4 linked regions of the Homo sapiens genome follow. The protein of the gene in region 2 purifies or fractionates together with the protein of the main gene of each other region. This does not show direct contact. Each region holds a gene or a part of one and is shown on either strand. Other genes may lie near its edges.

Evidence for each region. The genes of interacting proteins can lie anywhere in the genome.
Region 1: the proteins of RFTN2 (region 2) and NMT2 purify together in Homo sapiens (affinity purification with mass spectrometry; one large-scale study listed by BioGRID and IntAct). This does not show direct contact.
Region 3: the proteins of RFTN2 (region 2) and CCDC88A purify together in Homo sapiens (affinity purification with mass spectrometry; 2 studies listed by BioGRID and IntAct, with this or other methods). This does not show direct contact.
Region 4: the proteins of RFTN2 (region 2) and POMT2 purify together in Homo sapiens (affinity purification with mass spectrometry; 2 studies listed by BioGRID and IntAct, with this or other methods). This does not show direct contact.

Annotation. Positions count from the first base shown.
Region 1 is NC_000010.11:15,134,194-15,137,693, forward strand, and holds part of NMT2 (glycylpeptide N-tetradecanoyltransferase 2), read right to left. Parts: exon of another isoform or gene 1,226-3,500; coding exon 1,081-1,225; intron 1-1,080.
Region 2 is NC_000002.12:197,669,088-197,672,587, forward strand, and holds part of RFTN2 (raftlin-2), read right to left. Parts: intron 1-3,500. UniProt on the Homo sapiens protein: Upon bacterial lipopolysaccharide stimulation, mediates clathrin-dependent internalization of TLR4 in dendritic cells, resulting in activation of TICAM1-mediated signaling and subsequent IFNB1 production.
Region 3 is NC_000002.12:55,294,357-55,297,856, reverse strand, and holds part of CCDC88A (girdin), read left to right. Parts: intron 1-1,333; coding exon 1,334-1,599; intron 1,600-1,800; coding exon 1,801-2,260; intron 2,261-3,500. UniProt on the Homo sapiens protein: Bifunctional modulator of guanine nucleotide-binding proteins (G proteins). Acts as a non-receptor guanine nucleotide exchange factor which binds to and activates guanine nucleotide-binding protein G(i) alpha subunits.
Region 4 is NC_000014.9:77,286,384-77,289,883, reverse strand, and holds part of POMT2 (protein O-mannosyl-transferase 2), read left to right. Parts: intron 1-1,052; coding exon 1,053-1,122; intron 1,123-2,612; coding exon of another isoform or gene 2,613-2,651; intron 2,652-3,061; coding exon 3,062-3,140; intron 3,141-3,500. UniProt on the Homo sapiens protein: Transfers mannosyl residues to the hydroxyl group of serine or threonine residues. Coexpression of both POMT1 and POMT2 is necessary for enzyme activity, expression of either POMT1 or POMT2 alone is insufficient.

The DNA of each region.
Region 1 (3,500 bases), on a different chromosome or scaffold from region 2:
CTAGTGATTTCCACCAAGAAGAGTTTTCCAAGTCCTTCTCTGCAGAGCTTCCCAACATGGTAGGACTAAAACCCAGGCTCTTCCCCATGGCTGCTGCCTGCCTCGGCCCCTCTCCACACCCTCCCTGCCCCCTGCTCCCAGTGCTCTGGCCATGATGACCGGGGCAGGCCTCAGCTCAGGGCCTTCCTGGTGCCTTCCTTAGGCTTGAGGCCCTCTGGTCCTCAAGGGACGGGCCCCTTGGAATTCCCGACAGAAGCTTACGCATCACACGTCACTTTCTCCCAGCATCTGTTGCTTAACTAAAGCCTTTCTCTACCTCAGTGTGGCCGCTCCTCCCCAGCCTGGCCACCTTTTGTCCTACTTTTCCACCACTGTTTCCAGGTGTGTGCCCTGGACTATGCCTGGCATTTAATAACAGACACTCAACAGACACCTGCTCCATGAGGGACCTTCAGGGCCTGGTCCTTCCATCACAGAACCTTATATACATTTTTAATACTCTAATGGGCTAGGTGCGGTGGCTCACACCTGTAACCCAGCACTTTGGGAGGCCAAGGCAGGTGGATCACTTGAGCCCAGGAGTTCGAGACCAGCCCAAGCAACATACTGAAACAGCGTCTTTACAAAAAAATACAAAAATTAGCCAGGTGTGGTGGTGTGCACTTGTGGTCCCAGATACATGGGAGGCTGACATGGGAGGATGGATCACTTGAGCCCAGGAGGTGGAGGCTGCAGTGAGCTATGATCATGCCACTGCACTCCAGCCTGGGTGATAGAGTGAGACCCTATCTCAAAAATAATAATAATACTAGTAATGTTTCAAGTGTGGGGAAATTGGATGTTTTTATTGGGATAGAAATTGGACTAAAATAATGGTTATCAAAAGCCAATGTCACTATCTAATATTTATATTTTCAGAAGAAAAATATTAGTCTTGCATAGATTTCCAATCTGTGGTATGAAATAAATGATACATGTGAAGTTAACACTCTTTGTGTTTTGTTGTTGTTGTTGTTGTTGTTGTTGTTGTTCATCCAGCTTTGTTTGTGGGGAAAAAAAGAGAAAAGCAGAAAAACTTACCTAGTTTTGGTACCGGTTGTGTGTCCCAAAACTGGTATCTGTGCTTTGCAGCCTCATCAATGTTCCTGGCTGGGCCCTGGCATGCGGATAGCAGCTCCATTGCTCTCTGGATATCCTGCAACTTCTGCATTGGAACACTGGGATTCTACGACAGCAAAGACAGACACAGAATATGAGAGAGCGGCTGCTGATGTTAAACTTGAGCAGACGCACGTGCATCTGCCTCAGAGACTACAATACCTAAACACTAACAATCCTCCTCCAAGCCCAGTCAAGGCCATGGGCTTGTGTGTTACACATGAAAATAGAAGCAAACCCTCTGTTAAAGGTAACAACAGTTGTCTAGTTTTATTGGGGCTCTGGCAGTTTGGGGAATCTAAATTGAAGCACGCTTTGCTTCAGTTTCCCATCCATCTACAAATGGTCCCCGGCATTACTCCTCTGGGGGAGACGTGCAGTGCATGCATTACTGTCATCCAACAGCCAGGCAGCCACGAGCCTTGGGTGGGGGGCACTGTCAGAGTAAATGCTCTGCAGGAGCAACGAGGGGATGAAGGAAAGAACTTCTAGAATGGAAACACAGCAGAGAAGGGAAGGGAAGGGGAGGGGAGGGAAAGAAGAGAGAGAGAGAAAACAAAGAAAGAGAAAGAGAGAGAGAAAGAAAGAGAGAGGATCGGCAGTGGTGTCTCACGCCTATAATCCCAGCACTTTGGGAGGCCGAGGTGGGCAGATCACGTGAGGTCAGGAGTTAAGAGACCAGCCTGGCCAACACGGTGAAACCTTGTCTTTACAACAATACAAAAATTAGCCAGGCATGATGGCAGGTAATCCCAGCTACTCGGGAGGCTGAGGAGGGAGAATCGCTTGAACCTGGGAGGTGGAGGTTGCAGTGAGCTGAGATCGCGCCATTGCACTCCAGCCTGGGTGACAAGAGCAAGACTCTGTCAGGAAAGGGAAAGGGAAAGGGAAAGGAAGGGAAGGGAAGGGAAAGGGAAGGGAAGGGAAGGGAAAGGAGGGAGAGAGAGAGAAGGAGAGAGAAAGAGAAAGGGAGAGAGACAGAGAGAAAGAAAAGAAAAGAAAAAAGGAGGGAGGGAGCGAGGGAGGAAGGAAGGAAGGAAGGTAGGGGGGAGAGACAGAGAGGGAGAGGGAGGAAGGAGGAAGGAGAGGGACAGGGGGAGGAGGGAGGGAGAGAGGGAGGAAAGGAGGAAGGAAGGACAGATGGAAGGAAGGAAGGAAGGAAGGGAAATCTGAACTCAGTGCTGAACTGGGATGAAAATGATCAAGAAAAGAAATCTCTAACCATGCCCCTTCCTCCCGGCCACACCCTGCCCTTCTCCTGACCCTCCTGATCCTCCTGATCCTCTAGAGACAAACTCTCCCACCAGAAGGACAAGCAATTTCCTCTGTACTTCAGATCCTGGGCAACCATAGCCTGTCGTTCCCAGCCCAAGTGTTGGAAACTGGACTCCTTTTTAGGTAAAACATTACGTTTGAATTCTAAGGTTCCTTTCTCAAAGCCAATATTCCCGCCAGCTCTTGGAGATTCCCCAGTTCTTTTTTTTTTTTTTTTAATTCCTCAAATAACGTAATAATACATGGAACATGAGACTACTTGAAATGAGAAGACAGCGCAGAGGACTGAATATGGAAATCAATGACTTTTTTCAATATGTAAAATTACTGAGACATTGTAGAACTTTGATACCATGCAAAGAATATTCTTCGCTGTAATTCAGAAAGTGGTTAGAAGTTTCAAGAGCCCTTCGGTTTTGCTGTATGTCAACACAGGGTGGACACCATTGAAAGGTACAATCGACCCTTAGAAGTTTATAAACAGCAACTTTGGACTTCTGTTCCACTTGGAATCTGAAATCTGTGGTGTGGAGCAATAATTTTAACTTGGGAAGCTTACTCATCGTACACAGCACAGAACAGGGTTTGTTTCATACAAACACTGTCAAGAACCCTAAGGAAACGAAGTTCTGAAGTCCAGCTGGAGGCAGGTGAAAGTCTTTTTGTCTCTGCTTGGAAGTCTCACAGCACAATCCAAGATGGCCACAGTTTTTGTAAGCTGTTTATCTTACATTTGTTTAACATCAAAATCATAAAGGTCCTATCTTAATGACACATACAAATTTAACAAAATACTTTTCCGGTTCTCATTATTATATCTTTGGATGACTTCTTTTCCTTGGGTGTCTTTTAAGTCCCCAACATTAAAAGGAGCAAATTTCTAGCAAAATGAAATTCATGTGTATCTGAACTCCAACAACACCATCTATTAGAAGACCTTACAATTTAAATAGGAATTGAGATCACAGCATATTTCAACTAATAATGCTTAACTGTGCATCAGTTTAGCTTAAAATGGCAAAGTAGAGCCCAGTCTTATAAAAATAGAACTACAATGACTATAATGA
Region 2 (3,500 bases):
GTGATTATCTACTCACTGTTTTGGTTCTTCCTAACTGCAGTTTTAAAATACAATAAAATTCTATTGAACTATGTATTTCATGGTTATAGGCAGATATATGAAGGACCAAATTATGACCAAACTCCTGAAGTCTTATGTTTCACTGCTATCTTCTTAATATGCTACATTCCTACCATTCTGTTTTATTTTCAGTTTCCAGACAGACCACAGAGTTTTCTCTCTTCTGAGTATTTGTATATCTTGTCTTTCAGCCATGTTTGCCTTATCCCTACTCACTTCCTATTCAGCCTTTTTTTTTTTCAAATTTTTTTGGGGTTGGGGTGAGTGGAAATGTAACATATAAAAGAAAAAGACACAAAACATGCTTAAAACTACTAACACTAGGACAGCGGTCCCCAACTTTTTGGCACCAGGGACTGGTTTCATTGAAGGCGGTTTTTCTACAGATGTGGGTGGGGAGTGGACGGTTTGAGATGAAACTGTTCCACTTCAGATCATCAGGCATTAGTTAGATTCTCATAAGAAGTTTGCAACCTAGATCCCTTGCACGCGCAGTTCACAATACATGCTCCTATGAGAACCTATGAGAATCCAATGCCGTTGCTAATTAGGCAGTAATGCTCACTGGCCTGCTGCTCACCTCTGGCTGTGTGGCCCTGTTCGTGACAGGCCACAGACCAGTACCAGTCTGCAGCCTGGGGGCTGGGGACCCCTGCACTAGGGTAACCACTATCCATTCAAAAATTAGAAAATAGCCAGCACTTCAGAAGCCTTTACCCTTTCCCATCACAATGCTCCTGTCCCCTCCGTAATACCCTGATTTTTATGATAATGACTTTTTTTTGCCTTTCTTCTTAGTTTACTTCCCAGAATGCAGCCCTAAACACTATACTTCCGTTTGAGCATATAAAGGGAAGCATATAGCATGGACTTGTGTGTCTGTCTTCACTCAATATTATGCTTGTGGAATTCATCTTGTGTAATTGTAGTTCCTCTGTTTCCACTGCAGTGTGCTAAGAGTTGGCGAACTGTGGCCTGTGGTCTGTTTTGTTATATATTGTCTATGGCTGCTTTAGCGCTACAACAGGAGAGTTGAATAGTTGTGACAGAGACCTCATATTTACCATCCAACCCTTTAAGGGTATTTGCTGATTTCTGCAGTATTGTGTGAGTATACCACAATTTATTTTTCCATTCTTTTGTTTTTTGGAGTTCCGGGTTGTTTACACCTTTGGGCTATTACAAACAACACTTCTATGAACATTCTTGTAGTGCCTCATGATGCACATGTACACTCATTTCTGTTGGGTATATCTTTAGCTAAGTAGATAATGCCAAACAATTTTTTCCCTCAATGATTCTAACAGTTTACCCACACTGGTGTTTAAGACCAGTCTGGGCAACATAGCAAGACCTCCATCTCTACAAAAAATTAAAAAATAAGCCAGGCATGGTGGCACATGTGTAGTCCCAGCTACTCCAGCAGCTGAGGCAGGAGGATTGCTTGAGCTTGGGAAGTCATGTCTACAGTGAGCTGTGACTGAGTCACTGCACTTCAGCCTGGGTGACAGAGTGAGACCCTGTCTCAAAAAAAAAATCTATTTCAATTCCTTCTTGAAATTTTCACAGTCAGCTGTGCATCTATAAACTGCCTCTACTAAGATCTTCCACTGCCACCTCAAATGCAACATGACTGCAATGAAATTGCTCTTTGACCACAGACGGACTCCCTTTGGAGTGCCCCTCCTTCTGTAAGAGGACTCATTATTTCCATAGCCACTCAGGCTCAAAACTGGGAAGTCATCCTGGATTCCTCATTCTTTCTGTCCCTTCAAATCCAGCCAGTCACAGGCTAAGTTCCTCCTTTGTAACATCTGTCATATCTACCCCTTGTATCCTATCCCTGTTACTGCCCTTCACCCACAGGTCCTCATCATCATTAGCCTTGACTTCTTGCCTCCATCCCTTCTCACTGCAATTCCACATGAATCTTCTTAAAACACTCTTCTGCATCTATCAACTACTTGTTCAAAAAGCCTTTACTGCCATTTATCTTCCATAGAATTAGGTCTTAACTCCCTGGCTAAGCCAGAACCTTCCCATTTCCCATCAGTTTAGAATCTTACTTCCTGCTTCCTCCCTAGAAAACCTCCTTTAGCTCACTGCTCTGTTCACCAGCCCTTGAACTTACTCCAATCTCTTAATCTTTTTCTGTTTAAGCCACTTTCTTCAAGGGTCAGTTAAAGTCCTAACTCTAGTTCCAACTGATCCTACTCAAAATTGATTTCTCCTTTTTCTGATACTTGTTGTAGCACACTATTTCCTCCACATGTACCTTGTATTGTAATTTTTTGTTCATTCACTCATTCAACAAAGAATATTGACCATCACTCATATTCCAAACATCGTGCTGGACACAGGGTGTACAAAGATGGAGATGATATAATTCCTAACCTTGATGAGTTCATGACCTTGTCCAGTTTGACCGAGTTGAATACAAAATATCCGAGGGCAGAAACTGTCTTATTCTTTTTTATATTTCCAATGCTAATCAGCATTTTTTACAGAGTACAATTCCTGTTAATGGTGATGATGAAAGACAAATAGAATTTCTTGTTCTAATAATAATGAAGCAAGCTAGAGGCTAGCAAAATTTCACTCACATTTTATGTAATTCTACCAGAAATTCAGATAAGGAAGCTACCATCCAATTTTCTGTTGGGTTTTAGTATTGTAGAACCTCTTTTTACTCATAAAGCTATAAATGCTGTAAAAATTCTTAAGGCTACTATTATTCAGATTGTTTCCTGGAATTATACAAGGAGGTAAATTAATCCTTTTGGATCACTTGTAGAGTTATTTTAACTTTTTGTTAAGAAACCCTGTAACATACTCATATACATACATCATATGCTCTCATAAACACATATAAATGGATATACTATAAGAAATCTCTAGACTATTTTGAATTTTCACTAATAAGCAGGAATAATGAATTGTTACTTTATCATAATACAGTGAAAGAAATCATTACTATACAATAATCCAGAAAAATATAAACATTTTACCAAAACCTCATTAGTGCAGTTGGTAGACTTGGCATAAAGTTCCAGAAAAATTCGGCCTACCTAGATGAAACTTTAAATTTCTTGAAAGAAGGGGCTATGTGTTTTATTTCTTTTATAGTACCTAAGATACCCAGCATAGCAGCGCAATCAGGAGCTACTCCAAACACATTTGTCGAGTTGTAGTTGCACAAACTAATAATTTTATGGCCAGAATAAGAAAAATGTGTATGAACCTTTGAAGAGAACATATAAGTAACCAATACTTGATGATTATGTATCAGAGGGGAAATGCAGGAATTATTTTAATGACCTCAATAGGTTGGTCAAAAAGCATCCTGCAGGAGCTGGGTTTAAAGGAGGAATGTGGAGACAGAGGGTATTCTCAGAGGAAGGATCATAACAGTTAATCTTTATCAAGTGCTTACTAACTGC
Region 3 (3,500 bases), about 140 Mb from region 2:
TTAAAGTTATCCATGCAGGATGAACAGAGAAGCCTTCAAGTAGTAATGAGGACTTCTTAGATAAGCAAATAATTAAAATAGAATTTTCTGCATTTAGAACAGTTTTTGGTCTTAACATACTGAAATAATATAAAATTCACCTAATGAGCCAGGTGCGGTGGCTCACACCTGTAATCCCAGCACTTTGTGAGGCCGAGGTGGGCAGATCACCTGAGGTCAGGAGTTACAGACCAACCTGGCCAACATGGTGAAGCCCCGTCTCTACTAAAAGTACAAAAATTAGCCTGGCATGGGGGCGCATGCCTGTAATCCCAGCTACTTGGGAGGCAGAGGCAAGAGAATCACTTGAACCCAGGAGGCGGGGGTTGTAGTGAGCTGAGATCGTGCCACTGCATTCCAGCCTGGGTGACACAGTGAGACCCCATCTCAAAAAAAAAAAATACACACATATGTATATTTATATATAATATATATTTATATATAATATATATTATATATATTTATATATAATATATAAATTTATATATTATATATTATATATTTATATATAATTATATATAAATTATATATATTATATATAATATATATAAAAATACACATTAGATGAAATATATATATATATTTTGTCTAATCATGTTCTTATCCTAAATTGTGAGGCATTTTATTTTATTTATTTTTATTGTTGAGACAGAGTCTCAGGCCAGAGTGCAGTGGCGCGATCTCTGCTCACTGCAACCTCCACCCCCCCAGTATCAAGCAATTCTCCTGCCTCAGCCTCCTGAGTAGCTGGGACTACAGGCGTGCACCAGCACGCCTGGCAAATTTTTTGTATTTTTAGTAGAGACGGGGTTTCTCCATATTGGCCACGCTGGTCTCCAACTCCTGACCTCGTGATCCGCCTGCTTCGGCCTTCCAAAGTGTTGGGATTACAGGCGTGAGCCACCACGCCTGGCCTGCAAGGCATTTTATAACTATTTGAACCTGAATTTTAAAAAATATATTATTCACTTATTTATTCATTCATTTACTCAAAAAATATATTGAATGCTTTGTATGAGGCTCTGTTTAGGCTCTGAGTATGATAGTAAAAGCAAGTCTTTGCCCTTATGGAGCTTACAATAGTTGTCAGTTTGACAAAATAAGGAAGCAGGCTATGGCAGACAATTGTTAGACTGATAAAAGATTGACATGGTTTACTAAGCATTTCTAAATAAAGCTTGAAAGTAAATTTGGCTGTTCATATAATTAGCACACAGTCAACAAATGTTATTACTCATGAAGTATTAATCTCAATTCTATTATTGAAATCTCAACACCCCATTTACTCCAAAAGCAGGTGCAGTTAATAACCAAAGCAGGCCACAAAGCCACAGCAGTGGAGAATTTAGCCTGCTTCATGACCATGAGGCTTGGTCCAGCAGTGGTAGCAGTCCAATCCAGTACTTGAAAAGACAGACCAGATCAAGCCCAGTGCTCCAGCACAAAATATCTGAAACACTGGAGAGTCGACATCACAAGATCAAAACTGGTTCCCCTGGAAGTGAAGTTGTTACTCTACAACAGTTTTTGGAAGAAAGCAATAAGCTTACCTCAGTACAGGTTAGTTTTATCTATGATGACCTTAATTTAGATGAACACCACAAGTTAAATTTCTGTAATTGAACTTCAGAGCTTTTTTTTTTTGGTAAGTTAAGGAGTATTAAGAGGTACCACAATTTTATATTGCACAGTCTGCTAAATCAGGAAAGTAAAAACATGGCACTATATTCACTAATCTGCTTTGAATTTTTTTTTAAACAGATAAAGTCCTCAAGTCAAGAGAATCTTTTAGATGAAGTAATGAAAAGTTTGTCTGTCTCTTCTGACTTTTTGGGAAAAGACAAACCAGTTAGCTGTGGTCTGGCCAGGTCAGTAAGTGGAAAAACCCCAGGGGACTTCTATGATAGACGGACAACTAAGCCTGAGTTTTTGAGACCTGGTCCTCGAAAAACTGAAGATACCTACTTCATTAGTTCTGCGGGAAAACCTACACCAGGCACTCAAGGAAAAATAAAATTAGTAAAAGAATCTTCTCTGTCACGACAATCAAAAGATAGTAACCCTTATGCAACTTTACCTCGTGCAAGCAGCGTGATCTCAACTGCCGAAGGAACTACACGAAGGACAAGCATCCATGATTTTTTGACCAAGGACAGTAGACTGCCTATATCAGTTGATTCACCACCAGCTGCTGCTGACAGCAACACCACTGCAGCATCTAGTGAGTACCATTTACACCAGTGGTCCTCTCATATACTTGACATCCCAACACATACTATAGGTTCTTGTGCCCAAAATGATTTAGCTATAGACATGCCTGAGCCTCTATATGCCCAGGCTAGAAACTCAAGAACAGGAAGGTCACATTTTCTAAACCAAACTTTTGCCACTATTAGGATGCCTAGTGATGCATTCGGAATGTTGGCAAAAGATAGCATAGGACCATTTACTGTGGCCCATTCATCTCAGCCATTCTTATCCCTGAATACAGAATTAGTTAGTAACATAAGTGGGTTACCTCCTAGGCCAGTTATCAGAATAACTGACCAGGCTTCTGCCTCTTTGGATAAACCTGCACAGAAAGAAAATGAACAGTTTTCTGATCATCAGAACCCTAGTAACAGTAACCTACAGTTTTCTATAAATAGCAACAATCTTGTCACTTCTGCATGCCTCTATCCTGATGACACAGAAGCTGCATTGTTGGTTTCTGAGGATAATCAAACTGTTTGGTATGAATATGGTTGTATATGATCAAAACTGCACAATATAATATATTGATGTTATTTGATATACACTGCTTCTCTAATATGATTTGAAAAGTTGCTGTTAACAAAATATCATTTGGCTAGGTTTTTATTTTTTATTTAAAATTGTTGCACAGTGTTCAGCTGTACATGATGGCATGTATATTAATGTGAATGTGTAACCACACCAAAACCTGCATGAAATATTAATTACTTTGTCCATTTTCTGCATGCCTTTAAAAACCTTAACCATACATGCTCCTCCTTCACATTTTTTGTTGCCTGATAAGATTGTTACTTTGATATCCAGAAGCATGTTAAAACAGTTGCATGCTCTCTTACCAAGAAGACATTTCCAAGTCATATTTGCTTTGTTGCTTCTGGAAAAAAATGTTCATTTCCTCCCTCCCTTCCTCCTCTTCCCACCCCTCACTTGCTCTGACTGTCACTCCTTTTTTTCTTCCAGAATGTGTACTTTATATTACATATGTACAGTATCAGTAGGGAAAATGTAAAAAGATGTTGTTTTCTTTTGTCATTTAATTAGGCCATCTGTCCTGTTTTAAAGAAATAGTTAATAATTCAACACTTTATATAACAAATATTAACTAATACCCATATTTATAAAACATTTTTCAGATTTAAAAGATTGTTAATACTTATAAACTTAGTGTTATTCTTAGAAAACCCCATCAAATTTAAATGTGATTTACA
Region 4 (3,500 bases), on a different chromosome or scaffold from region 2:
CTGTTTGGGACAGAAATTTGCAAGGATCCATTCTGTGTTGCTATGATTACTGCCAGCTCCTTTTCCATGTCATCACCTTTCTAGATCCTGATTGGTCTTGATTTTGAGATGATACAGAAGTAGTCCTTTAATCATTTCATCATTATTCACCTCACATTTAGCAAGTTTATTGCCAGAGACAAGATACTCGCTGGCAAGATTGTCAGGGTTTATTTGATTTTGAGGAGAGTTGGGCAAGTGGTCATTTGTATGGAATTACTTTTTAGAAGGCTGTTATTACTACTAAAGTCTTACTATTTAGCTTCCCAGCTTAAGCTCCAGTGGGGGCTTCAGTGCCTCATCGGGTAAAGGCCACATTCCAGCCTGGAATATGCAGTCTGGCCACACTCGTTCATAGCCTCATCTGTTCCCACTCTCCCCCACCCCACCCACCCTTACAGTATGAAACCCATTTGCTATTCATCGAAGGAGTTTTTCTTCTTCTTTTTTTTTGGAGACAGAGTCTTGCTCTGTCACCCAGGCTGGAATGCAGTGGCGCAATCTCGGCTTACTGCAACCTCCGCCTCCCGGGTTCAAGCGATTCTCCTGCCTCAGCCTCTCGAGTAGCTGGGACTACAGGCGTGCACCACCACGCCCGGCTATTATTTGTATTTTTAGTAGAGATGGGGTTTCACCATGTTGGCCAGGCTTGTCTCGAATTCCTGGCCTCAGGTGTTCTGCCCGCCTCGGTCTCCCAAAGGGCTAGGATTACAGGCGTGAGCCACTGTGCCCGGCCAGAAGTTTTCTTCTTTCACACTTCTAGTGCCTTTCTCCTGCTTGTTCACCTGACAAAATTCTCCCTTTCCCTTAAGAGTCTTTTCGAGCATTATCTCTGGGACACCCTTCTCTAATACCCTGAAGCAATTTAGGGGTCTTTCCTCTTTGGTCTCAGAGTACCTGGTTAGTACCTCTAGCAGATACCACATGGTACTATAACTGTTTACCAGTAGGCCCTTGATTAATACTAGCCTGGTGAGTGATTTTGGATATCAATGCTTGTTTCTTTTTGGCAGATCCCCTAGACCCTTCCTTCCCAGTGGAGTTTGTAAGACATGGAGACATTATTCGACTAGAACACAAAGAGTAAGTCAATTTGCAGTTTGGATAAATAAATGGTACGGGCACCAAGGGGAGGGAGTTATTTTAAGAAGTAAACAGAAGTTAGATTTTGATGAGGCTCTGGTCAATGGAGCAAGGCCACAGTGCGAGAATGGGAGAAGCATTTTATGAAGGTGATGAAATTGCAGGCCAGCCTTTGCCTGCCTTCTGGGGACCTTTCAATTTCCCATTTCCTAGAGGAAAATTTGAGTTGCTGAAAGCTGCTGCTGCTGTTTTTTTTTGAGACAGAGTCTCACTATGTTACCCAGGCTGGCCTCAGAGTCCTGGGCTCAAGCGATCCTCCCGCTTCAGCCTCCCAAATGGTTGCTATTACAGGCATGAGCCATCACACCCAGCTCCCAAAGCTTCTTCTTAAGTGGCTGCCTTTAGAAAGACGTAGGAGTCTGTTTCTGAGAATATGGCAAGCTAGCTTATTTAACCAGTGTTCTCACTGAAAATGACTAAAAATGCTGGAATAATATAAAGACTTCTTAAGAGCATAAAAAGGCTGACAAGATATTAAAGAGTTACCAGGCCAAAGCCTAAGTGAAATGAGGAATCCAGAGAAATAAGTGAGACACTGAAGCCACTTTTGCTTTGATCCCACAATCTTGACTTTTGGCTGTCTCTTGAGAGAAGAGGTTTTAAAGTCAAACCTAGGCTCACCCAAAGTGGTAAATTTATTAAGTTATCCTTCCCCATATTTGGAACCCCCAAAGGCTTGGGGTAAGGGTAAATCTGCCCTATCCACTTATGCCCAGGTCCACTTTAGGACCCAGCTAAGTGTTGGGGGTTGGGTGGTGAACTGTCCTTAGTTCCTGAGAAGTTGGAACTACCATTTGATCCTCACATGAACTTGGAGCTCAAATTCATGTTGCCTGGGTGATCTCAGAATCTCCAAGACATGAATTTAAATGAACATGATCCTAGATTGGTCGTGTCTCCTAGGTGCATGGCTAAAAGCAAATGTAAGCCCTCTTTGGGGAAAGTCGTTGTCATTTGTTCCCATAGTTTTTTAGTGACAATAGTACACACCCAAAAGTAACAAAGCACACAAGGAAATAGGGCACTGTGTGCAAGAACAAGCTGAAACGACAGACAGCAGGAGCAGCCCCGTAAACATTTCATAGACTGGAATTATCGGATACAAATTTTTAAAAATCAGAGGTGTGTATGTGTGTGGGTATATATATATATATATAGAGAGAGAGAGAGAGAGAGAGAGAGACAGAGACAGAGAGAGAAGCAATTAGCTATGGTTTTTTTTTGAGTCAGCTGGATTTTGAATACTTAAAATTTTTATTTTATTAAATAAATTTCATTTGTCATTAATAAAAATTTATTGTAATTAAATTTTACTTTTGCAAATTTTCAGAAATTTTATAATGAACATTTATTATTTGTTCCAGATAAAAGTGAGAGTTGTTATATAAAACTAAATAAAAGCTAAATTAAACCCCTCTCATCCTCCACAGATGTCCACTTAAAAAAATCTGGCGATGGGAGCAGAAAGAGTAAGTGGCAGTGAGGAGGTTACCTAGCTCAGGCCATGCAGATTACAAGTTTTAATTTTTCCTCTCCTCAAACCTGCCTCCTAAGTCAGGCAAGCTAAGTGCTTCAAAGCTACTAAATGTGTGAAAGTCGCCCCCCACCTCCCTGCCAGCACCTAAAGTTAGCCCCTTTCTTGGCATGCCGTCCAGTGCTCCTACCATCTGTCTCTCCTGGTTTGGGCTCATCTCTTCTCCAGTTCTCAGGATATTTCTTGTGAGTAAATAGGAAACCAGTTCCTGATATGTTGGATTTAATAGTTCAGATTCTAATTTTTCTTATCCTGACAGTTGACTCTGAACATCCTTGGTAAAAGAAGAAATGTTGCACATCATCTTTCTATAGGATAATGACACTTCTCTTTTCTAACTTCTAGAACTTCCCGGAACTTGCACAGTCACTATCATGAGGCCCCCATGACCCGGAAGCACTATCAGGTCACCGGCTATGGCATAGTAAGTAAGCAACGGGGATGTGAGTAGGACGTAAAAGTTATGGGCCTTGGCTCAGGGCTGTGTGGTGGGATATCTCCTCCCCAGAATTCTGGAATGTTCCTGAGGATAAGAGGCTGCACAGGGACTCTCTTAACATTTGGGCACTTTTTGGCTAGGCCTGCTCTGGGAAAAGCAGCCTATGAAGTCTGTTTGTCTCCATCTCTCTCCTCACATAATAACCATGCCATTTACATGCTCTGATACTTAATAAATGTCAAATATGAATACTATTTGGATCTCTTTTAAAATCACATTGGACATAGAAGCCAAGGACCCACAATATGACCCCAGATGAACAACATGTATGTTTATCTTTTGCCA